Linked DNA regions of Homo sapiens. The protein of the gene in region 5 purifies or fractionates together with the protein of the main gene of each other region. This does not show direct contact. Each region holds a gene or a part of one and is shown on either strand. Other genes may lie near its edges.

What was found.
Region 1: the proteins of VWA5A (region 5) and ADD3 purify together in Homo sapiens (affinity purification with mass spectrometry; 2 studies listed by BioGRID and IntAct, with this or other methods). This does not show direct contact.
Region 2: the proteins of VWA5A (region 5) and BCAS3 purify together in Homo sapiens (affinity purification with mass spectrometry; 2 studies listed by BioGRID and IntAct, with this or other methods). This does not show direct contact.
Region 3: the proteins of VWA5A (region 5) and PBX3 purify together in Homo sapiens (affinity purification with mass spectrometry; 2 studies listed by BioGRID and IntAct, with this or other methods). This does not show direct contact.
Region 4: the proteins of VWA5A (region 5) and MAN2C1 purify together in Homo sapiens (affinity purification with mass spectrometry; 2 studies listed by BioGRID and IntAct, with this or other methods). This does not show direct contact.
Region 6: the proteins of VWA5A (region 5) and PKNOX1 purify together in Homo sapiens (affinity purification with mass spectrometry; 2 studies listed by BioGRID and IntAct, with this or other methods). This does not show direct contact.
Region 7: the proteins of VWA5A (region 5) and MCM8 purify together in Homo sapiens (affinity purification with mass spectrometry; 2 studies listed by BioGRID and IntAct, with this or other methods). This does not show direct contact.

Annotation. Positions count from the first base shown.
Region 1 is NC_000010.11:110,006,485-110,010,783, reverse strand, and holds the start of ADD3 (gamma-adducin), read right to left. Parts: upstream 2,801-4,299; 5' UTR 2,485-2,800; exon of another isoform or gene 1,802-2,484; intron 1-1,801. UniProt on the Homo sapiens protein: Membrane-cytoskeleton-associated protein that promotes the assembly of the spectrin-actin network. Plays a role in actin filament capping. Binds to calmodulin.
Region 2 is NC_000017.11:61,390,591-61,393,331, reverse strand, and holds the end of BCAS3 (BCAS3 microtubule associated cell migration factor), read right to left. Parts: intron 1,356-2,741; coding exon 1,207-1,355; 3' UTR 501-1,206; downstream 1-500. UniProt on the Homo sapiens protein: Plays a role in angiogenesis. Participates in the regulation of cell polarity and directional endothelial cell migration by mediating both the activation and recruitment of CDC42 and the reorganization of the actin cytoskeleton at the cell leading edge.
Region 3 is NC_000009.12:125,753,873-125,757,372, forward strand, and holds part of PBX3 (pre-B-cell leukemia transcription factor 3), read left to right. Parts: intron 1-3,500. UniProt on the Homo sapiens protein: Transcriptional activator that binds the sequence 5'-ATCAATCAA-3'.
Region 4 is NC_000015.10:75,362,108-75,365,607, forward strand, and holds part of MAN2C1 (alpha-mannosidase 2C1), read right to left. Parts: intron 2,559-3,500; coding exon 2,381-2,558; intron 2,082-2,380; coding exon 1,892-2,081; intron 642-1,891; coding exon 535-641; intron 347-534; coding exon 236-346; intron 1-235. UniProt on the Homo sapiens protein: Cleaves alpha 1,2-, alpha 1,3-, and alpha 1,6-linked mannose residues on cytoplasmic free oligosaccharides generated by N-glycoprotein degradation pathways.
Region 5 is NC_000011.10:124,135,950-124,139,449, reverse strand, and holds part of VWA5A (von Willebrand factor A domain-containing protein 5A), read right to left. Parts: intron 3,322-3,500; coding exon 3,157-3,321; intron 2,877-3,156; coding exon 2,776-2,876; intron 2,436-2,775; coding exon 2,182-2,435; intron 1-2,181. UniProt on the Homo sapiens protein: May play a role in tumorigenesis as a tumor suppressor. Altered expression of this protein and disruption of the molecular pathway it is involved in, may contribute directly to or modify tumorigenesis.
Region 6 is NC_000021.9:42,981,062-42,984,561, forward strand, and holds part of PKNOX1 (homeobox protein PKNOX1), read left to right. Parts: intron 1-3,500. UniProt on the Homo sapiens protein: Activates transcription in the presence of PBX1A and HOXA1.
Region 7 is NC_000020.11:5,957,152-5,960,651, forward strand, and holds part of MCM8 (DNA helicase MCM8), read left to right. Parts: coding exon 1-78; intron 79-1,376; coding exon 1,377-1,575; intron 1,576-3,500. UniProt on the Homo sapiens protein: Component of the MCM8-MCM9 complex, a complex involved in the repair of double-stranded DNA breaks (DBSs) and DNA interstrand cross-links (ICLs) by homologous recombination (HR).

The DNA.
Region 1 (4,299 bases), on a different chromosome or scaffold from region 5:
TCTTGGGCCAGACTCTGGCTTCAGAACCAACCTGTGTCACCTTGGGAAGATACTTAACCTCTCCATGCCTCTGTTTAGCCACTGGGTTGTTGGAAGGACTAAGTAAATTAAATCATATAAAACTCTTAGTGCCTGGCACAGAGGTTAGGCAAATAAATATTGGCTATTACAAATATTTGCTGAGTCTTCACATGCTGGGTAGCATGACCTAACAGCCTTCAAAAAGATATGTCACTTTACATACTGATAATGATAAACACAAAAAGCACTGAATACAAACCCCATTCTAAGCACTTTACATATAACAACTCGGTTAAGCTAAAGTTCTGATGTGACTGTTCCCCAACACGCTACACAGTTTGTTCAGAGCCAGGTTTCTATGCTTTTATGTGATTTCTTCCCTCAAACACTTCTTATACTCTGATGACATGCATACATGCCACCCAGTACTGCTAACCAACTGCTTTGAAATGGGAGAGATTAACCAGCTAACCACCTGTAGGCTTACATGTGACAAAAGCACTCAGACATGATAGGCCTACTTCAGGAAGCCTCAAAACCTCAGAAGTTGGGCACCACCCTGTATCTAGGTTTTAGGATTGTGTGTAGGAGTTGGGCTGTTGCTGATGTTATGTTCTCTTGGTCTCAAAAGACATTCTGGTTTTACAAAGGCCAGATCTACACTTTAAACATAATTAGGCAGAATTCACATTCATGCCAGCATAATATTGAAGAAAGGGGTGAGACAGCAAAGTGTGTAATTTTCTCCCTTTCAGTCAATGCTTGAAACTTACATTACGAAAATACTATCCTTCTATCATGCAAAATATTTCCCAAGTGTCATATGATCAACTATGTCAAATGTTCACCAAACATTTCCTGATATCATATATGTAAAATGTAGCAATACATTGAATGTCTCATAACCAACTATCTCAAGAACTCCTTCAAATTATGTTTAACATTCAAAATAGATACACCCGTTTCTTCTTTAAAAACTATTACCAACATGCCAGCACTTCTGGGCACCTTAAGTGTTATCACAGACTGAACTCTTCAGAAAGATGAAGAGTTAAATGTAGCTGCCTTTATTTTATCCTGGTCCTCCTTCCATAAAGTTAATCTGCTCCATTTAAGCAAAGGAAAATAAGTTATAATGCAAGTACAATATAATGGAGACTTCGATATAAAAACTTTCTACAAATGCTCCATTTATAATGTTCCAGTTATTTATAGGGTTAAGTAACTTAACCCTATAAATGGGTTGGTCCCATAACTTAATTACACAAATATTTTTAACAGTCAAGTATTTAACTTGAAAACGACAAATTGCACTGTACTCTTATTTTTTCAATCTTTAAAAACACTCTCACTAGGAGTCTTCTAAAGCCAAAATTAGGAACGTACCCTGCACTATGTAGTCAGAAGCCATTCCAAGAAAAGCAACCATTTAATACTGCTAAATCTAAAATGCTACATAATTTAACGTAAACTTGCACGCACGTGTATGTAGCTAGTCCCATACCCCAGAATCTTATCAATTCCTTCCCCAAACTTGCATATAATCCTCCCTCAAAGCCTCTTGGCTAAGTTAAATTCCTTAACACTCTACCAGGTTAATTGCAACAGCACATGTGCCAAGGAAATTAGTGGTTTTCCTTGCGCTCCCATTTTCAACCGGCACCTACTTGCAATTAAATCTCTGCAACAAAAAAGTTCACCTGAAGCCGTTCTTGCCATTTTAAAAGAGGCCCAGATTATGCTACCTGTCTGTGGTCTTGCCTAAGCTATAATAGCCTACCTCCAAAGAGGCTGGACGTGCCCCAAACACCAGCACACCAGACCTGCTGCCAACTTCGCTTGTCACCCCTAGCAGGAAGCTCAACCTAACATGTATACGTTTGTAGGGGCGGTGTGTTTGTGTGTGTCTGTGTTGGGGGGTGGGGAAGCGGATTATAGGAGAAAGGTGACTGAACACTTTCAACTTGTAACAAAAAAAATTTTTTTTAAATGAGGAGAAAAACAACTAAAACCAACATTCGCTCCCTTTCCTCCACCTTTTCTAAGCGCAGGAACCTCTCACTCCCCTGGAGCGCACCTTCAGGGCTTAAGGTCCCCGGGGTCACCTAAGCTTCAGCCAGTAACTGATTTTGGTACTCCCCGCCTTCCTAGGGAAAACCAGCAGACGCGCGAAGCGTCGGGCCCACCCGGCGGCGCCGCAGGCCGTGCACCGCCACCCCCGGACCCTCCCCCGCAGGTACGCTCCCCTCTGGCCTGGCCGTGGTCCCCACTCCCGCCCCGGAAAAGGGTTCACCTGAGGCCGCAGGGACAGCCAATGAGAAGTCCCCTTGGCCCCGCCAGCCGCCGCTCCCTACCCCCGCGCGACCCCCAGTAGCGTCCCCAGTGCTAGCCCCCGCGCGGGTGCCCGCGTCCCGGCCCGGAAGAGAGGCGGGACGACGGCGCGTCCTCTCCCCGCAAGATTACCTCGCAGCGCGTAGCCGGCTTTGTGTTTCCCCTCCCTCCTTCTCGGCAGCCGCCCGGGCTGCAGCAGCCGCCGGATCCGCCGCTGCGGCCGCCTCTTAAGCGCCGCAGAGCCCCAGAGGGTAGGGCGGGAGAAGGGGAGGGGGCTTGAGGAGGGAGGGACCTGTACGCCGAGCCCTGTGCAGCAGGAAGCGGCGACACCTGGGATGCCGACGCCTCTGGCGCTTGCTCTGTGTTTTAAAAAATCTAATTTAAACCCCTCTTCTTTCCCTCCCGCCCCTCACACTGGCGACCGTTACGGGCTGGCGGCTCGCGCTCTGGCGGGACTAGCCGAGCGCCCCTCGAGCGTCCCTTGGTCCCGCCCCCTAACGCCCCGCCCCTAGGTCCCCAAGCGCCCCCCCCGGTCACGCCCCCAAGGTCCGCCCCTCGCAGCCCCCTACGCCTCTGGCCCCGCCTCTTGGGCTCCGAAGCCTCCCGGCCCCGCCTCCTCAAGACCTCGCCTCTGGCAGCCCCGAGCTCTCTCTGGCCCCGCCCCGAGCGCCCCTCGGGAGTCCTGGTCCCGCCCCCGCAGCCCCCTCCGCGCCCTCAAGCTCTAAGTCCGTGAAGCCGCAGCGGTGGGGGCCTGCAGGCCCGGCAGCCGGGAGGGCCTGGTTCGGGGCGGCTGCCTGGCGCCTTTTCAACGTCCTCTTCTGACTGTGCAGCTCGAATCCGCGGCGTCCCCGGAGGGCCAGAGGGGGAAACGACCCCGATAGAAACCCGACCGCGAAGGGGAGGAGGGGCGCCTCGGAAATGTCTCCCGCCCTAAATGAGCGAGCCCCCTACTCCTACTCCCGAGGCTGAGCCGCCGCTTTGAGTCAGCCTCGGCCGCCCACGCTGGCTGCTGGGGCTGTAGGAGGCCACTGCAAAGGTTCAACCTCCGCACGCCCCCCGTGGGGCCTGGACTTTGCTCTCAGCACAGCTGCCTTCGCGGGCGCCTAGTCCCCACAACCCCTGCTTCACCTCCACATAGGGGGAGGACAGGGGCTCTCGCTTCTGCTTCATTTGGACCCCTCGAGAGTCTTCACTCCCGCTTTGGCTCCCGGCCTCTGAACCTTATGAGAGCTCACTTCTTTGAGGCGAAAAGTCGAGGCATCGCCAAGAACCTTCAAAATGAATGCGGGGCCGGGCAAACTTTGCAACACGCAATTGCAGGGCTGTGGATCCATCCACAGGTGACACCGGGCCTCCCACCCCCCTCGCCCAGACATGTTTCTCATCCCAACCTATTCTTGAAATAGACCTCCCAGCGGTGCACACTTTTCTCTGCCACCCACGACTTCCACGTCCCTCCTGCACCAGTACACTTGCAAGCACACCCCTCCGAGCGCCATTCTAATGATTCATGGTCCCTTGGGCCAACCCCACCCTAACACACACAACAAACTTCGTTCCCCACCCTTATCCCCCTTCGTTTCCAAGGCACTGGCGACAATCCACTTCATTTCCTTTCCTCATCTGCAGACTCGTCCCCCTCAAATACCTCACGCCATCCGCCTCATCTTCATCCCCCCCCTCCTCCCTAAAAATGTGCTAATTAAAATGTAGTTTCCTCTTCCCACATATGAAGTGTGGAAAATGAATCTTGTCTTGACACAAACTGTGATGCATTTATCGTTTTCTCTCTCCACTGGACTAAGGCTGTAGAAATTTTAGTCTACCACCATCTCCCATTTGCTCAAAAAATCCAACCATGCCTTATTATTTTTAAATACTCTTAACGAATCGTGGGGAAGGCTGCCTAGTTTGAGGAAGAAAATTGTTTAGAAAATGCTCAGCCTG
Region 2 (2,741 bases), on a different chromosome or scaffold from region 5:
CCCTGTTCCTGTCTCTGTTGCCACTTACTTTAGGTCCGGAAGTGGTGGTGGTGGGGCGGGGGGACAAAATCAGGAACGTGTCATCTGAGGGTTCCGGCCAGGTTTCATGAGATACCCACCTTCACCTGACCACCCTTCCATCTTCTGAGTTAAAAAGAGGCAATTACAACAAGGTGCCCCCCAGATGAGGCTTTGCCAGACTCTCCCCTTGACAGCAACCCACCAGCACATGGCAAGCCCTGATCCCCAGGGAGGAGGGTCCAACCCTGTGGCACCCCAAGAACTCATTGCCTCTGGTAACAGGCAAGATGCTTAGAGAATGGGCTTCTTAAATCAGGCCCCATCCAAATTCCAGGACAAAAGTTCTTCCCATTCCAATCCTCCACTGACTCCTTCTGCCCCCAAGTTGCACATGAAAGGGGGTGTTGGGATCCTGGGCACTCAGGCCATAGGACTCTGCTCAGCATTTGGAGAGGACCCTTACCCCAGCAACTCAGGGATGGACACCAACTGCAGCGTGATTTATTGGACAAGACGTGCACTTTTCAACAGGGCCTCAGTAACCACGGTTTCCTTCACTGATCAGTACAGGACCAGGGTAAAGGGGCTTAAAGATAAGAAAGACAAACTCTTCCCATGAACAGATGGGGAAAGAAAGGAGGAAGAAGAGGCATGTCCTCCCTTCCTCCTTCCCTAGTACTCTGGGCCTCCGTTCACCCCGTGCTGGAGTGGGGCTGACCAAGGGAAGCTGGGGGCAGTGTGTGTCACAGCCAGACATGAGCTGAGGCTGTGACTGTCCACTCAGGGTCAAAATGGCCAGGTGGACGATCAACTCTGTCCCCACTCAGGCCCCCAGATCTGGTCACTGTTCCAGGCTCCCCCCACCCGCCCCACCGTGGGTATGGTTAAAAAATACAAAAGCGGATCCAATGCAGGATGTCATATGCAAACATACACAGGGACCGAGCTTCTACAGTCTCTCCTGGCCACAGCCTCCACCGACAGGTGTGGCAGAGGGCAAGTGCGCTGAGGTGCTTGGAGAAGGGTCTCTTCTCCATCCAGGTAGGATGGGCGGCTGCTGTCACTAAGCTTGGGGAAGGTGGTTGATGAAGGAAGAGCAGAGACTGAAGGGTAGGACCAGAGCGGGGCTTCTCCCCTCCTCCAGCAGGGGAGGGGGCTGGCCAGTCAGAAGCAGGTTGCTGGTACCTACGGGAAGCCAGTCGGGAAGAGGCTGAGGGGCTGGCTCTCATTGGTGGGCAGCGGAGATCGGTAGCCATCAAAGTTTCTTGGTATGCTGCCGCTGGTGGAGCCTGAGCTGTTACTCAGAGTCTCGATGCTTCCCTCTCGCTGAAGTTCTGCAAGACACAGGAGAGGGCCAGGCCTGGTTAGAGTTGGGTCTGGGGAGTGGGGGCACCATCTGGGCCAGGCTGCCTGCCTTGAGGCACCATTCTGGGTTCACTTGTGTCCTTCCGCAGGGGGATCCCCGCCTGCTCCCTGGATGGGCAGGGGGCAGCTCAGGTCACAGGAAGGCTCAGCCAGGGGAGGGAAAGCCCCCTGGCTGGCAGACTCTGGTGTGAGAGCACCGTCTCCCTGCTGCGGGAAGCCCTTTAGGCCCGAAGCACGGCCACCCTGACGATGTGTGTGGACTACACAGCTCTTCATGAGCCCGTACCCACGCCTGCACACACTCATGCTCAGCCAGCATGCCCCCAACTCCACAGTGCCTTCTGTCCCGGCTCTACAGGGGAGGCAGGCGGGGAGAAGCTAGGACACGGGAGGGCTTGCAGCATCCCTGCCTGATCTGTCCCCACCTCTCTCCTGCCCTGCCTGTGCCTAGAGCTTCTGCCTGGCTTTGCCACTCACTCATTCACTCATGCTCACCCACACAGTCCATCTGCTGGCCAGGTCTTGGCTCATCTTTGGCACCTCCTGCCAAGTGTCCTGTTTCCCTGGGAGGGGATGCCTGGTTTGAGAGGGGCCTGCTCCAATGAAGAGAGGGTCCCTGTCTGCCTGAAGTGCCTCCTTTCTCCTTTCCTCTTAGGCCCCAAGTCTCCTGGAGGCCCCTCAGCATCAACCTGAAGGGCAGGCAGGGAGTCCCGCCCTCCTCCTCCTCTGCCTCCCTGGCCCTGCACATCCATGTTGCCACCTCAGATATGGCAGCTTGATCCATCTAATTCAGCTGTGGGCCGCTCAATTGTCCTACCATCTCTTGACCCAAGTCAGGTCCTGGGGTAGGTGGGTTGGGAATGGAATTCCCTGCTTGCTGAGTGCAAGGAAGAACCAATTACTTCTTGGCTTTTTGAAGGTGGTCAGTTCCGATTCCCTTTCAGTCTCCCCCGGGGGCTCTGACATATGGGCACACACACACCGGGCAGTCTCTGGAGCCTGCCCCAAGCCAAGATATGTAGACCTGCAACCTTTCCTTCTCCAAGGGATGCCTGCCTGTGACTGAAGGAGTCTGGCCTGTCCACCCAGGAGTGCAGGACCTCAAAGCAGTCACTTGAAACAGCAAGATGTGCAAAAACGTTGCACTCGTCTGGTCTGGCTTGAGACCTTGGTCTTCATCCTGCAACCGCTCCCAGGCCCCCTGCCACCACACGCGCAGTACAGCCGGCTCTGGTTAGGGAATGAAGGGGTCATGGCCTTCACTCCTGGGCTGGCCAACACCAGCCAGCCAGCAACGAACCACTGACCCCGACTCCCTGCAGGCCTGCAGCAGCCACAGAGTGGAGTGGGGAGGA
Region 3 (3,500 bases), on a different chromosome or scaffold from region 5:
CAATTTATAAATTTTGTAAAAGGTTACTTCTGAGGCAAATTTAAATTAACGTATTAGTTGGATTATTTATATTTTGATACTTTATAGTGGCATGGTATAGGATGAAGTTACATTATATGAAGTGGGACTATAAGAATTGAAACTGCATTTCGTGAACCACACCCTAAGTCAGTCATCACTTTATTTTGTACTCTACCCTGAGGTATCTATTTAGAATAAATGCTTAACACATCAGCACTAACACATCAAGTTATATAAGGTTTTAGATTATCTTTTCCCTATTCGTGTTTGTGAACATCTTTAGATATTTATTAGTTCAATATTGACATTATGAGAATAATGTTTTGTTTTCTCAGCAGTCTTGTGTTTTAGCCATTTATCAGTGTGATCAGCATGATTTAGGTATTAACTGACTAACAAAGCTTACACATTACCACCACCTCCCCCTCAAGCCCGTGTTGACCTTTTCAAGCATTTGCTCTACTTCAGTAGGCCATTTGAGTCTTCAAGTATGAAGAGAGTAAATAATTTATATCACTATGTAGTATAAATTGGTAAAAGTTTTTCAGAACTAGCTATCTGATTTTTTACAAAGTTATTGAAGTTAATCAGACAAATTGCTATCACATCTAGTTGACAGTGCTATATTTAGCAAATAATAAGTAATTCTTGAATGAGCTACTGAAAAAATAAACCACCTTTTTATGCCTTCAAACTCAGAACATATTAAAAAATAAATTTCATTAATCTTCAACACTTGATTCTAATTATCCCTTTTGTAGGCAGAATTGCAACAAGAATTTCTTCTGTATTATTTTTTCATAGATATATTCCATAGTATAATATGTTTGTAGGTTTTAATGGTAACTAGTTTACTTTGGCACTAAATTTGAGTGTATATCTAGCAAAAAAATTGGTGTGATAGAATGTATCAAACTGAATTGGCGTAACTTTTTTTGTATAACTGTCTACGTAATAGTAACAGGTTAGTATGAAAGCAATTAAAAATATTTATGGATAAAAATAATTGTTAAAAGTTTTCTACTTCTTTCAACTTAAGTGCTTTAAAAATGTTAAGCTGTTTAGACAATAACTCTTTTTTAGTGATCATATTAATGAGGACTTGGTATACAATGTAATCCTTTTAATGCTGATGAGTCCTCACAATGTTTAAACCATTATTTGTGAGACTCAACATGTTATGGCAAAATGATTTTTTGTTTGTTTTGTTTTCTTTTATGTGATACATCAGTTTTCAAAGCATATTTCTTAGGCTTCAGAGTCCAGCAGGTGGCTTTTTACATTAAAAAATTCATAAATTTTAAAATCCCATAAAATTTTATTTCAAATTCAAATTAACTAATTGAGAATGTCAACATTTTCACTGTCTCTATATTAACATTTATAATAGAACAAATGGTTGCATATAGAAATTATCTGCAACAGTCTAAATTAAGATTCTAAACAGGCATTACAGATGCTGGTAACTTTGGCAATTATCATTTTGTTTGGTGAACAGTAGTAAAACAGTGTGCGGTAAAAGTGTTTAGAGAGAGAGGATAAATAAATTGAACAGTTTTGCAATGCAAAGTGGTTTGTGGTGTTTTTGAGGATTTCTTGGCTCTCTCTTAACTGCTATTGTGAGCCTGGAGCAGATTTCCCCATTGCTAATGCCCTAGAAGTATTAATTCACTTTGATATGCTAATTAGAGGGCATTATGCAAGAAATGAGATTAAGTGGCAGCATGAAGCCATTTGCCTGTCAGTAAATTGAGAGCTTTAGCATCAGGAGGAGCTTTGTTTTTTTTTTTTTTTTTTTTTTGAGTTTCTCTTGGTTTTGCATATAAATAAAATTGATTGAAAGGTCTAGAGAAGCTTCCAGAACATTGGTGGATTCTTTTTTCCCCCTCCTATGATTATTTAAATGAAATGTTACAGGATTTTTCTGAATATTAATTGACCTAATTGGAGATACTGAATATAAAGTTTTTATTGTAATGTTTCTGTATAAAAATATACTAAAATTTTTGTGTCACCTAGTCTTTTTTTTCCTAAAACATAATTTCATTAACATGGCTAATGAACTGTTTATCACTTATCTCTTCTCAGAAGTGTAAACTTCTGTGTATGGGCTTGTGCACCAATGTCACTAAATTGAACTTCACAAGGATATTTTCTTCACTAGGGAAGGAAGGAAGAAGTTGAATTGGGCTTCAGAAAACTATATTAAATGAGTATTAACATTCTGACTTGAATCCATAAAAGCTGTAACAATTATAATTCATGGTTAAACTGCCCTTTATACAACCTGTGGAATTTATATTTCAGCATATATCTTATAGGTAAGATTACTGATGACATTTTGTGTGGAAGATGGAATTTCATACTGGATTCAGATTTTGTTGACTTTTGTGGCCTAAGCTAGGCCTCTGAATTTTTCTCTATAAAGCTATTTTGTGATATTTCTTATATTCTGGGGAGAAATACATGAATGAATACTAGGATTGCTGTGGGGAAAGGGAGGAAGACAGACCTTCTGTGCCTACAAGAAGGTTAAGGTTTACTCAAACATGGAACTTCTATCTATAAACCATGCATAGAGGATGGAATTGCAAAATCCTGGCCTAACTGTATTTGCTGGGTATGGTTAGAAGGAAGAGGGTTTGGGTAAGGCATTCCTACTGGGGTTTAGTTCAAGTGTCTGAATTCCACCACTGTAGCTGTGACTCTGGACCCAGTAAACCATATCTTCTCTTCAGAGCCATGTGGATTATTTAGTCACCACAGCTGCCATGCATGCATACTACCAAGGCAGGCATCTCTTCGGTGTGCATGTGTGATGCCTGTTAATGGTAATGTGAGTTACGAATGTGCACAGAAAGGAGGATGAGTTTCTCCTGAGACAAAAGTCCTGATTACATTTCGCTGTGAAGACGACTTTTAGTGTACCTACCACATTAGCTGCTTTTCTAAATGAAACACTTGGTTACTTTAAATTCTCACTCCCTTCTCTGATTCCCTGAACTAGTTAAATCAGTGAATCCTCATTAGTCTCTGATTACTTGCAAAATTTCATTTAAAACATATGAAGTTATTTTTGATTGAAAAGGGAACAAAAAGCTTTTGAAATTGCATGTTATTATTTAAACAAAGGTTTCTACAGGCTTTCAGATGTACTAAGCCCTGCAAATAATTTATAGAGGAATTATTGGGAAGGACTTATGAAATTCTTGAATGGCATTTGATGGGGAGGAAATCATTGCATTAAAAAATATATATATTTGAAATGGCAAGCTTAAATGTGCATCTTACCTTTACTATCCAAGTGTCCTTAAATGAGGAAGAATTGACTTAGGTGGTCTTACAAGTTTCATTTTTCTTTCTTTTCTCCTCCCACCATTGTTTTTTTTTAAAAAAAAAACTACAGGTGAAGGTTGTTGGAATTCATAGTCAGATATATCATTTTCAACTTGGAATAGGAACTAGAGCAGGAAATTGAT
Region 4 (3,500 bases), on a different chromosome or scaffold from region 5:
CCATCTGCCTGAGGGGGTGCCCAGGACTAGGCCATGCAACTTGTCACAGCGCTGGAGGCTCTCCTCCCCCTTGAAGTCCCAGGCCTTGAGATCCCAGGGACTAATGAGCCAGCCCTGCCACACAGCGGGGATGAGTGGCCCGTGGAAACTCACCAGCAAAGCCGGGAGGGCGGGGCTACCTGAGGGAAGGCTGTTGTCATACAGTTCAAGGCTGAGGAGTGCCCAGTGCACTTACCATCTCCACCCAGGTGCCCCCCACAGGCACAAACTGCCCACGGCACGCAAACTCCTGGATGCGGGAGTACAGGCCAGGGTAGCGGCTCTTCACCCATTCCAGCTGCTGCGCCTGTGGGCAGGTTGAAGGGAGCTGGGACCAGAGTGACAAGGGCCCCACCCAGGACTGAGCATATGGGACTCAGTGTGTGGCTGAGGGTGAGGAGCAGCCCTGACCCCAGGCCTGGGAAGCCTTCAGGGCCTGTGGAGCTCCAGGGAGGGCCACGTGCTTCCCTCCTCCCTCACAGCTGTCCCTCTGACCTGGGAGCAGGCAAAGATGAACTCAGGGTTCCGCTCCATGAGCTGCAGGGCGGTCACCCAGCTCCGGGCACATTTCCTCACAGTCTCTTTGAAGGGCCAAAGCCAGGCTATACGGGGAGTGAGGTGGAGGACAGAGGGAGCAGCAAGGCTGACCAGGCCTGGGCTGGGACTCCAGAGGGTCACCTAGCCCCCCTCCCATCCCAGGCCCTTCACCCTGGAAAGCCCTGTGGTGTCCCTCCTAAGTGGTCACTTCACTTCACTCCAGCGAGGTGGGAGGAGGGGCTGGGGAAAGGAGGCGGCAGTGCTATGAGGCCAATTATACAGGTCAGGAAATGGAGGCTCCAGGCCCCAGAATAGCCTCAGTCCTCTTGGGGAATTAGACATCCCCTAGAGGATCCTACGAGAAGTAGCAGGGACTACCCTGCCCCTGCACAAACTTGATGTATACCTGGGAACAGAGGCATGGCTCCCAGGATGGAGCCAGCTGTCCTACCAGAGGTGCTACAGCCTCTCCTGACTCCCAGGCTGCAGTTCCTCCCTTACCAGCCCAGAACCTCTCACACCTTACCCTACATCTTGGCACAGCAGAGAAAGCCCTTGTTCTGTGATCCCAAAACTTCGGCTGCATCAGAATCAATACCTTCAGGAGCTTGTTAAAAATGTGGATTTCCCGTAAAACTCAGACACTGCAAACTTGTCCAGGAAGCCTCTCTGGAATCCCCCAACCCAGCTGGAGTAAGTACCTCTCCTGTGCTCTCCAGTGCCTCAGACTCCCCACCATTGTGACACCAACTCTGCCTGCTGAATCTGTCTCTGTAATCCTACCCTCAATATCTAGCATGGGCCCCATGAGGCATCAGATTTTGTTGAAAGAATAAATGAGGCTGGGCACGGTGGGTCATGCCTGTAATCCCAGCACTTTGGGAGGCCAAGGCAGGCGGATCACCTGAGGTCAGGAGTTTGAGACCAGCCTGGCCAACGTGGTGAAACCCCGTCTCTACTAAAAATACAAAAATTAACCAGGCATTGTGGTGGGTGCCTGTAATCCCAGCTACTAAGGAGGCTGAGGCAAGAGAATCGCCTGAACCCGGGAGGCAGAGGTTGCAGTGAGCCGAGATCACACCATTGCACTCCACCCTGGGTGACAAGAGTGAGACTCCGTCTCAAAAAAAAAAAAAGTGAATCCAAAGCAAGCAGAGCCCACAGTCCAGCCCCCCGGCCCCGTTTTACAGACGGGGAAAACGCAGGTCCAAGAGGAGCAAGAACTTGCTGAGCATCACACAGTGCTTCTAGGGCACATCCAGGTCTTCAAGGGCACTCCTGCTTCCCCAGCCAGCCCAACCAGCTGCTGTCCTACCTGTATCAATGTGGCAGTGCCCTGTGGCATGAATGGTGTGTTGGCTTTCACCCCCATGTTGGCCAAAGAACCTGGAGGCCAGGGCCTGGGCCACTGGGAAGGTCTCGGGCTGGGCAGGGTCACACACGTTCACCATCTGATTGGCTGTGTACAGGGCCTGGAAGCTGCGCTGGTTGTCCTTCCCGAGGCCCTGCAGCAGGGTTCTGCCCCTTAATCCCTTTTTCAAGCACAGCTTCCAGACCTAGGCTCCACTGATCTCAGGGCTCTCAGCAGAGCTCCCCTGACCCCCAACCCTTTTTCCCTGCTGGTCCCCCTGCTCAGCACCGTCTCCCTCCTCCCCTTCACATAGGAAAATTCTCTCAACCCTCAAGCAGGTGGAAACCCTCGTCCTACTCTGGATTCCCAGAGTCCCATTTATCTGACCCAAAGAACAACCTTCTTGGAGCAGGGCTCTAGAGGGTAGCAGGGGGTACAGGGGGTGTCAAGTACCTTGGCTATGCCCAGCAGCAGCTCCAGATCCACCAGGAGCATGTGGACATCCCGGTGGAACACAGCTAGCTCAGCCCGGCTCAGCTGGAACATCTTCTCAGGGTCAGGGGCTGCAATCATGCTTCCCTTCCCGGCCCCCAGGAGCCCATTGCAGGCTACTTCCACATAGAGAGTGAGGCTACAAAGATGGGGAGACAGCCTCAGGCTAAGGGACTGGCACAGTACTCCGGGGACTTGGGGAAGGGGCACCCAGGAGGCATCCAGCTGAGCCCAACCTGTCTGCTTCCAGGATCCACTACCCAGAGGATCCCACAGTGTGACAAGAGTGCATGTGGGAGGGTTGTGGTACAAACACCAGATGGATCCCATGTCTTGCTGTCAGAGAGAATAAGTAGCAAAGTTTGGAACCATGTAAAGTACGCTGCTGTTTAGTCTTATATTTCCAAAGTTGTCTTTGCAAAGCACTGCCTTGGTCTTGGAACCCTCTTTGCATATTAAAATCATGTTCGGATCTCCCAGGCTCAAACTTTTAGACCCAAGATCTAAAACCAACACGGCCAACATGGGCGGGCCATTCATTGGAGAACAGGCTGGGCTGTGGTGATGCCATACTTAGGCTTCAGAGAGCAAACACGACTTCCTTAGGGAGGCCTTCCTGACTCCACTTCGCTGCTAAGTCTAGAGCAAATTCCTCAGTGGAGTACCCAGGATTTCCTTCCAGAGCCCTCAGTTTTGTAATTATATGAGTGAATCTGTCTCCCTTTGTTGGCAAGGGCTATTTTATTCACCACCATACTCCCAGTGTCTGAAAGCATCTGAAACAGTGTCAATCTATATAAAATACATTCATAATGTCTAAGAAGTGTTTTTAATGGTGTCATAAAATGTCCATGTTATAACATGGAATGTAAGAAGTCAGGATACAATCTTAACTAGTAAAAACTATACCGGGATGAGCCGGGCACGGTGGCTCATTCCTGTAATCCCAGCACTTTGGGAGACTCAGGCAAGTGGATAGCCTGAGGTCAGCAGTTTGAGACCAGCCTGGCCAACAGAGTCAAACCCCGTCTCTACTAAAAATACAAAAAATTAGCTGGGCATGGTGGTGGGCACCTGTAAT
Region 5 (3,500 bases):
ACAAATAAATGTAAAGATATCTCATGTTCTTGGATTGGAAGAATAAATATTGCTAAAATGGCCATAATACCCAAAGCAATTTACAGATTCAATGCAATACCTATGAAAATATCAAAGACAACCTTCACAGCATTAAAAAATCGTAAATTTGTATGGAATTATAAAAACATAGTCAAAGTAACCTTGAGAAAACACACACACACACACACACACACACACACACAAACAAAATGCTGGAGGCATCATACTATCTGACTTCAAAATATACTACAAAGCTATAGTAACCAAAACAGCATGGTACTTGCATAAAAACAGACACTGACCAATGCAACAGAAATGGAGAGCCCAGAAATAAATCCACACATTTACAGCCAACTAATTTTTGACAAAAGTGCTAAGAACACAATAGGTAAAAGACAGTCACTTTAATAAATGGCATTGGGAAAACTGGATACACACATATGAAAGAATAACATTAGACCCTTATCTCTCATCACATAGAAAAACCAACTCAAATGAACTAAAGGCTTAAGTGTAAGAGGTGAAACTGTGAAACAACTAGAAGAAAACATAAGGGAAAATATCTATGACATTGGTCTGGGCAATGATTTTTGGATATGACCTCACAAGCACAGGCTACAAAAGCAAAAAATAGATAAACGAGGTTACCTCTTGTGTATAGCAAAGAAAACAATCAACAGGGTGAAGAAACAACCTACGGAATGGGAGAAAATATTTGCAAACCAAACATCTGATAAGGGTTTAATATATACAAAGTACAGAAGGAATTTAACTCAAAACCAAGAAAGCAAATAACCTTATTTAAAAATGGACAAAAGACTTGAGTAGACACTTCTCAAAAGAAGACATACAAATGGCCAATAGGTATATGAAAAAATGTTCAGCATTACCAATCATCAGGAAATTGCAAATCAAAACCACGATGAGATATCACCTCATACCTGTCAGAATGGCTATCATCAAAAAGACAAAAGATAACAAGTACTGGTGAGGATATGGGGAAAAGGGAATGCTTGCACACCATGGTGAGAATGTAAATTAGTATAGCCATTGTGGAAAACTGTGGCTCCTTAAAATGTTAAAAATGGAGGTACTATATGATCCAGCAATCCCACTGCTGGATATATACCCAAAAGAAAAGAAATCAGTAATATCAAAGAGATATCAGCACTATTCACAATAGCCAAGTCATGGAATCAACCTAGGTATCCATCAGTGGATGAATGAATGATGAAAATGTACTATATATACACAATGTAACATTATTCAGCCATAAAAAAGAACAAAATTCTGTTATTTGCAACAACATAGATGAACTTGGAGAACATTATGTCAAGTGAAATAAGCCAGCCACAGCCTGGATAAAATGGCAAAACCCCATCTCTACGAAAAATACAAAAAAATTAGCTGGGCATGGTGGCATGCACCTGTAGTCCCAGCCACTCAGGAGGCTGAGGTGGGAGGATTGCTTGAGCCTGAGAGGTTGAGGCTGCAGTAAGCCATGATTGTGCCACTGCACTCCAGCCTCGGCAACAGAGTGAGACCCTGTCTCAAAAACAAAGAAGGAAAATAAGTCCAGAACAAATATATAAAGACAGGATAGGCAAATGTATAGAGATAGAAAGTAGGTAAGTGATTACTGGGACTGGTGGAGAGGGGAGTGGAGGAGAAGATAGGTGGGGTCAGGGAGAGAAATGGGAAATGTCTGTTAATAGTTATGAAGTTTATTTCTTAGGTGATGAAAATGCTCTAAAATTGATTGTGGCAATCAATGGTTGCACAACTCTGTGAACATACTAAAACCCATTGGACTGTACACTTTAAATGGGTGAATTGTATGATATTTGAATTATATCTCAATAAAAAAGATAAATCAGCTTCAGATTAGGCAGTTTGGTTACTCAGGGTTTACCTGCACTTTCTACATTTTAATGTTTGTTTTTTGTTTTCTCTTGGATTATTTTAAATCTCCTTGCCAATGGGATGCATTCTAGTTCCCTGGGACAGAAAAATTTAACACTAACCAGAAATCCTAGATGTGGAGGTATAAGGAAAACAAAGCAATTTGAGAACATTTCACAGCCCTTTCCTTTAAATAATGTGCTCAGATAGTCAGAATCTTTTATTCTATATGAGTTTGAATGGAATAAAACTCATTACCTGATTGGCATTTTATCTTCAATGGGGCAGAAGCACCCAACAGAATTGGCCTTGGGACGTCCCTATGAGCCAGAGGCCCCTGAACCGGCTTGTTGAGCTCCTTATTGATAGCAATGAAAGCTGTGAAGGAGCTTATGACACCAGACTCAAGGCTAAGGTTCAATGCATCTTTTTTATCACTTGCTGGAGTCTCCCTGAGGCCCATGTCCTTGGTCTGGAGCAAGGACTTGGCAGCAAGGCGGTGAATGGTGAGGCTGAAAGGAAAAAAAAAAAAGTACTGAAATGTAGGGAAAGACATCCATATACCAGTTTCTCAGGGCTCCTAAAAGTTAGGAATAGAAGAGTTAAGATAAAGTCAGATAAGGGGAGAGAGAAGACTTGGGTGGTTTAGAAATAAAAAATGATTGTAGGAAAACAATTACAATGGAGCCCAGAATTAAGAGAAGAAATCTAATCCCCAAAGATGGCAGAGGAAAGAAGGAAGGAAGGAGGGAGGGAGGGAGGGAGGGAGGGAGGGAATGAAGGAAGGAAGGAAGGAAGGAAGGAAGGAAGGAAGGAAGGAAGGAAGGAAGGAAGGGAAAACTGAATTCTCACTTGACATCAGGCTTGGGTTGTAGAGGAAATGTCACCTTATCCTCAAAAGTCTTGCCCTGGAGTGTATATTTGAGGCATACTTCTCCTGTTGTCTCTGCTGCCTGCAAATTAGAGATGAGTAGAAATGACGGAACATGTAATGTTCTGATCATCCATGGAAGGATCAGAACAGGGGCAGGTACCCAAAACAATGTATGAAAATATCTGATGAAGAATCAGGTAGCCTAGGAAACCGGAGACCTGAAATGATGGGAAGGAAGTAGGCTAGCTATACTTGGCAAGTGCCGTCTCTGGCTGAGATTGAAATCCACCTACCAGCTTTAGTGGAATGGTCATGTGGTAGCTCTTTGACTAGAGGAACAAATAAGAATGGGAACTCACTGGCATCCTCCCGGTCAGCTGGGCATAGCTGATTAATCTCTGACCCCTAAAGATGACAGTCTGTTCTGGGGAAAGCATTTTAGCAGACAGACCAGGAGGCAAATGCCAGCTCAGAGAGACATCCTCTACCACAGGCTGCAGAGAGCGTTTCAGAGTCCTGAGAGCCTAATGTGGGGAAGAGAACAGAATAAACACAAATGATACAGACAATGGCAGCTACAATTAACTGGACATTTATTATGTATCAGATGTGATACATAATACATGTCATGCCTACTCCTCAATACTATTCTAGGAGATGGGCTTTATATATGAAGAAGCTTTGCATATGAATAAGCCAAAGC
Region 6 (3,500 bases), on a different chromosome or scaffold from region 5:
TGAGGGTGAAGGAAGTGGCTGCAGGCCCTGGGAAGTACCATCTTGCATCCGTGTGCAGCACTGAGTGGATACCTCATGGTTCTGTCTTGTGTACACTGTTCAGGAGGACATGTAGAGTGGACATATCACATAGAAGAAGGTCAGTCTGGAAACTGTTAGGAGAAGCACTCAAGGGCTGAGAGGCATGGTCCTTGGTGGAAAGAGCCAGCAGGCCTGGTGCTGGCGGTGCCCTGCTCGTGACAGTGTGCAAAGTCTGGAGCCTGGCCTGTTCCCGCCCTTGGCAGATGGTAGCTCCTTGTTTTGGATTATTAGCCCCTGCCGGTTTAGTTACTGTTTCTGGAAGATTCACATAGAAGGCAGTGTGGTAATTCAGTCAACGTGTTGTCTGGCATGTGGTATAAAACTCCTGTTTAAAGCTCTGATTCTGAGGCCATGCCTCAGGGACTTGAGAAGGGGACAGAGCAGCTTATTTTATTTTATTATTTATTTTATTTAATTTTAATTTTATTTTATTTTGAGATAGGGTCTCACTTTTTCACCCAGGCTGGAGTGCAGTGGCACGATCTCGGCCCACTGCAGCCGGGAGCTTCTGGGCTCAAGTAATCTTCCCGCCACAGCCCCCAAAGTAGCTGGGATTACAGGCACGTGTCATCACACCCAGCTAATTGTACTGTTTGCCGTCTGCGATTGACGCTGGAATGATTGGCTGTTTTAGTCGGGTTCTCAGGGTGGCAGGGAGCAGGCTGACTTCAAGTTGGGTGGGTGGTGAGATAGGTGGTTCAGGATCATGCAGGGATAAAGAAAACAGGAGTCTATGGGATTCTTGGGACCACTGTATTGTTGCTGGGCCTCTGGGCAGATGGAACCATGGTTTGTGCTCTGGCAGGATCCAGTTCTGCACCAGGGCTCTTGGCCTTCCGCTTCAATTAGGTGGTTGCCCTCCACTGTCTGTTCCATCTGTACGCTCCCCTCACAGTGGGGGCTCACCCAGCCTTACCTGCCCTGTACTCTCCCTTTTCCAGCACCCACCTCAGAGAGAGTGCCTGTGCTCTTTCCCCTCACACCACCTACCAGGCGCTGACCTTCGGGCTGGGGGCTGGCCTTGGGTGTTGCAGGGCTACCTGGCCCAGGGAGTGGTGCTTGGGGAGGAATGAGCTTCTGACACCTGCACAAGGAAGGCCCCCTTTGAGCAGGGCCTGCCAGTGGGGTTGGGTCACTCAAAGGGGCTGTGGATTGGTAGGTACTATGATCACAGTTTCCAGAACATAATGCCTGAGTGAGCGCATGTGTTTTGTTACATGTTCTCTCAGACATTTTATGAAGGTTTGTACATTTTTTTGCATTAAAAATGTTAGGAATTTAACTTGACAAGAAAAAGGAGCATAAGGCCGGGTGCAGTGGTTCACGCCTGTAATCCCAGCACTTTGGGAGGCCAAGGTGGGTGGATCACCTGAGGTCGGGAATTCGAGTCCAGCCTGAACAACATGGAGAAACCCTGTCTCTACTAAAAATACAAAAAATTAGCCGGGTGTGGTGGTGCATGCCTGTAATCCCAGCTACTTGGGAGGCTGAGGCAGGAGAATCACTTGAACCCAGGAGGTGGAGGTTATGGTGAGCTGAGATCGCGCCATTGCACTCCAGCCTGGGCAACAAGAGCGAAACTCCATCTCAAAAAAAAAAAAAAAAGTTTAATAAACATTAAATTGCTAAACTTTACGTTCTTCTAAATTTAGTTACGTATTTGAGCATACTTTTTTTTCCCCCACGAAACAGGGGCTTGCTCTGTTGCCCAGGCTGGAGTGCAGTGGTGCAATCTTGGCTCCCTGCAACCTCTGCCTCCCGGGTTCAGGCAATTCTCCTGCCTCAGCCTACTGAGTAGCTGGGATTACAGGTGCCCACCACCACGCCTGGCTAATTTTTGTATTTTTAGTAGAGATGGAGTTTTACCATGTTGGCCAGGCTGGTCTCGAACTCCTGACCTCAGATGAGCTGCCCACTGTTGCCTTTCAAAGTTCCAGGATTACAGGCATGAACCACTGTGGCTGGCCTTTTTTTTCCAATTTTTTGTTATGGTAAAATACACGTAACAAAATTTACCATCTTAACCATTTTCAGTGTGCAGTTCAGTGGTGGTAAGTTCATTCATACTTTTGTACAGCCATCACCACCATCTGTCTCCAGAACCCTTCATCTTGTAAAACTGAAACTCTATACCCATTAAACACTGCCTCCCCATCTCCCCTCCCTGAAGCCCCTGGCAACCACCATTCTACTTCCTGTCTCTGAATTTCGCTACTATAGGGACTTCATACCAGTGGAATTAGGTAGTATTTGTCTTTTTGTGACCAGCTTAGCTCATTTACCATAATGTCCTTAAGGTTCATCTATGTTGTAGTGTGTGTCAGAATTTCCTTCCTTTTTAAGGCTGAATACTCCATTGTGTGGATATACTGAATTTTGTTTATCCATCCCTCAACAGACACTTGAGTTCCTTCTACCTTTTGACTATTTTGAATAATAAAACTGTGAACCTGAGTGTGTAAATACTTCTCCGAGATCCTACTTTCAATTTTTTTGGATATAGATCTAGAAGTGGGATTGCTGGATCATACTGGAATTCTGTTTTTAATTTTTTAGGGAACCTCCATCCGATTTTTCGCAGCAACTGTACTGTTTTATATTCCTTTTAATTTAATTTATTTTTTATTTTTCCAAGGACTCAATAAGGAGAGAGTATCAGTTTACATTCCTACCAACAGTACAGAGGTTCCAGTTTCTCCGTATCTTACCCAACACTTATTTTCTTATGTGTTGTTGCTTTTTTTAATAGCAGCCATCCTAATGGATTTGAGGTGGCATCTTACTGTCATTTTGATTTGTATTTCCCTAATAATTAGTGATGTGGAGCATCTTTTCACATGTTCATCGGCCATTTACATGTCTTTGGAGAAATATCTCTTCAAGTCCTTTGCCCCTTTTTGAATTGGGTTTCTTACATGCATACGTGTGTGCGTGTGTGTGCGTGTGTGTGTGTGTGTGTGTGTGTGTTTTAAAGAGACAGGGTCTCATGATGTTGTCCAGGCTGGTCTCCAACTCCTGGGCTCAAGTAATCCAGTAATACTCCTGCCTCAGCCTCCCAAGGAGCTGGGACTTAAAGACATGGGCCCCTGTGCCTGGCTATGTTCATACGTTTTTACATATTTTTTAAGCTATATTGTGTTATGCTTTTAGTTGGCATTTTAGTGATTTTTAAAACATTTATATAATCCACACATTTCTCGTTTTAAAAATTTAAGGTCTCATACACTTTTGTGAGTCCAGTTTTTTTCTTTTTCTTTTTTTTTGAGACAGAGTTTTGCTCTTGTTGCTCAGGCTGGAGTGCGATGGCATGATCTTGGCTCACCACAACCTCCACCTCCTGGGTTCAAGCAATTCTCCTGCCTCAGCCTCCCAAGTAGCTGGGATTACAGGCATGTGCCACCCCGCCTGGCTAATTTTGT
Region 7 (3,500 bases), on a different chromosome or scaffold from region 5:
TGCAGCTGAGTTACAAGCCCAGGAAGGATTGTCTAATGATGGAGAAACAATGGTAAATGTGCCACATATTCATGCAAGGTGAGGAATTTGATGTATTAAAGTATTACTTAGAATGGGACATTGAAGGCCATTTAAGAATGAAAACGCTCATTTTATAAAAATGAGGAAATCAGTAAAAAGGACATGAGTTCCTTGCCATCTCATTGATCATCACACTGAAATAAACTCATTGAAAATTATTCAAAGACATCATGACAGATACTTCCTAAATAAGGAAGAAAATGTTGATTTCCTAACCTGCAGATTTTTGTAAACATTGGTTTTGGATGTGAACTTATCAAGACCCTGCTGTGTAAGTTTAATAATCCATGTATGGGTTGAGTATCCCTAATCTGAAAATCTGAAATCTGAAATGCTCCAAAATTCAAAACTTTGAGCCCTGACACGACACTGAAAGGAAATGTTCATTGGAGCACTTCAGATTTTTGAATTAGAGATACTCAACTAGTAATATTGCAAATATTTGGAAGTCCAAAAATTCCAAAATACTTCTGGTCCCAGGCATTTTGGATAAGGGATATACTCAGTCTGTAATACACTAAGTGTTCTTTGTTAAATTATTAGGTTTTTGTTAGATACAAGGGAATAATGAAATTATTTTGTTTTTCTTGAATTCATCTTTAAGATTTTAAATTCATTAGAAGAATTCATTATAAGGTAATCATCAGCATTTTGTTTTTCTTTTCCAGAATTTATAGAAGAAAATTTCCTAGCAGTTCTTTAAAAAGAACTTAGAAACCCAAAGGTTTTTGAATCTGTAGATTTTCCTTTTGGCATTATTTTTTTCCTTAAATTTCTTTTTTCTTTTTTCCTTGAGAACAGCCTGTGAGACAAGAAGAAAAAGGAAGATTTAGTGTTGTTTCTTGTTAAGAATGGTTTGGCTGGGCACGGTGGCTCATGCCTGTAATCCCAGCACTGGGAGTCCGAGGCAGGCGGATCACGAGGTCAAGCGATCGAGACCATCCTGGCCAACATGGTGAAACCCTGTCTCTACTAAAAATACAAAAATTAGCTGGGTGTGGTGGCACACACCTGTAGTCCCAGCTACTCGGGAGACTGAGGCAGGAGAATCACTTGAACCCGGGAGGCAGTGGTTGCAGTGAGCCAAGATGGCACCCCTGCACTCCAGCCTGGCAACAGAGCGAGACTCCATCTCAAGAAAACAAAACACAACAAGAATGGTTTAATTCTTGTGATATTTCTGATATATCGAAGGGATGATTTGATTTGAGAATTCCATAGTTGCTCCTAAAAGGAACTTGTGAAAATATAAAAAACATCAATTTTCTGTTCATTACTTCCTGTTTTGTCTTTAGGGTGTACAACTATGAGCCTTTGACACAGCTCAAGAATGTCAGAGCAAATTACTATGGAAAATACATTGCTCTAAGAGGGACAGTGGTTCGTGTCAGTAATATAAAGCCTCTTTGCACCAAGATGGCTTTTCTTTGTGCTGCATGTGGAGAAATTCAGAGCTTTCCTCTTCCAGATGGAAAATACAGTCTTCCCACAAAGGTAATACGTTCTTTAACTGCTTCTTTATTTATCTTGGTAAAGAAGGCAAATCAGAATACAGAAAACATTTCCCAGTGTTTCTGAACACAGAGCTTATTTTTATTTTTTATTTTCAATTTTCTGCTTTTATATTATGAAATACTTCAGGGTAAGAAAAATACAGAAATAAATAAAACATTCCACTACTCATCACCCCGAATTTACATTTTTCAGCTCCGGACACATTTTTTAATGATATAAAGCATTACTGGCACAATTAGTGTCTGTTTTTTACCTATACCATTCCCAGGGATGATCATTATCCTGAAGTTATTATAATATGCATCCCTTCCATTCATATTTCTGTTGACTTCTAGGTATACACACCAAGTTTTTTTTCCCCTTTATTTCTTCTACTATTTAGAAGTGATGGGTTTTTTAAATCTTTATTAGCCTTTATTAAACTGGATTTTAAAACTATAGAAAAGTGCAGAGAATAATGTAATTAACATTTATCTACTCTATGATTTGGCAAATATTAATATTATTTTAGCTTAATTTGTAACAAAAATATGGTTATATAAAGTTGAAGTCTTTCTGTTCTCAGTTTTATTCCCTTTATTTGCTCCCTAGATGCAACCACTATGCTGAAATTGGCATGTATTCTTCAAGTTTACATTTTTATTCTTGACTACATGTGTAGAGTTAGTTTTTTGTATTGTGTTTACGTAAATGGTATCCTGAATGTAACACGCAGCTGTTTTTTTATTTGGTTATTTTGTAGTTCTACCTATTTTAATACATATCAAATTCTTTCATTTTTACTATTGTGGAGTGTTGCTTTAAATAAATAGCCACAATTTATCCATTTTCCTGGAGGTAGACAATTGTGCTCTTTCCAGTTTTTTATAAGAACAAATGATACTGCAGAGAACATTCTTGTACATGTCTCCTTAGCAGAGGAATACTAAGTTGTAGGCTGTACTTTTTTTTTTTTTTTTTTTTTTTTTTGAGACGGAGTCTCGCTCTGTTGCCCGGGCTGGAGTGCAGTGGCGCGATCTTGGCTCACCGCAACCTCCGCCTCCTGGGTTCAAGCAGTTCTCCTGCCTCAGCCTCTCGAGTAGCTGGGACTACAGGCACGCGCCACCATGCCTGGCTAATTTTTGTATTTTTGGTAGAGACAAGGTTTCACTATGTTGGCCAGGCTGTTCTCAAACTCCTGACCTGGTGATCCGCCTGCCTCAGCCTCCCAGAGTGCTGGGATTGGCCGGCTGTACTTATTTTTAACTGTATTAGATGTTACCAAATTACTTTCCAGAGTATTGTTCCCAACTTAAATCTTTGCTGGTAGTGTTAAGTAGTTACCATTTCTCTGTCTTTTCATTAACACTTGGTATTGTTAGACTTGTACATTTTTGACAGTTTGTTAGGTATAAATAATACTGCATTTATAATGTGAATTTTTCTGATTTCTGTTGTGGTTGAGCATCTTTTCATATCTTTACTGGCCATTCAGTTTCTTTATCGAATTTTCTATTTATATCTAATGTTCATTTTCCTGTTTATTGGTTTATTCTTTAATTTTGTTTTTTAGAGATGGGGTCTCATTCTGTTGCCCAGGCTGGAGTGTAGTGACATGATCATAGCTCATTACAACCTTGAACTCCTGGGCTCAGGTGATCTTCCCATCTCAGCTTCCCACGTAGTTGGGACTACAGGTGCCAGCCACTGTGCCTGGTTCTATTAGTTTATTGATAGGAGTTCTTTATACATTCTAGATACTAATTATTGTTGATTATATACATTAGATATTTTCTCCCAGTCTTTGGTTTGTCTTTTAACTTTGTGGGTTTTTTTGTTGTACAGTTTTACATTTTGACATGATCAAATTGTTGTCTTTTCCTCCCTAATTTGTATATTTTATGCCCTGCTTAAGAAGCCGTTCT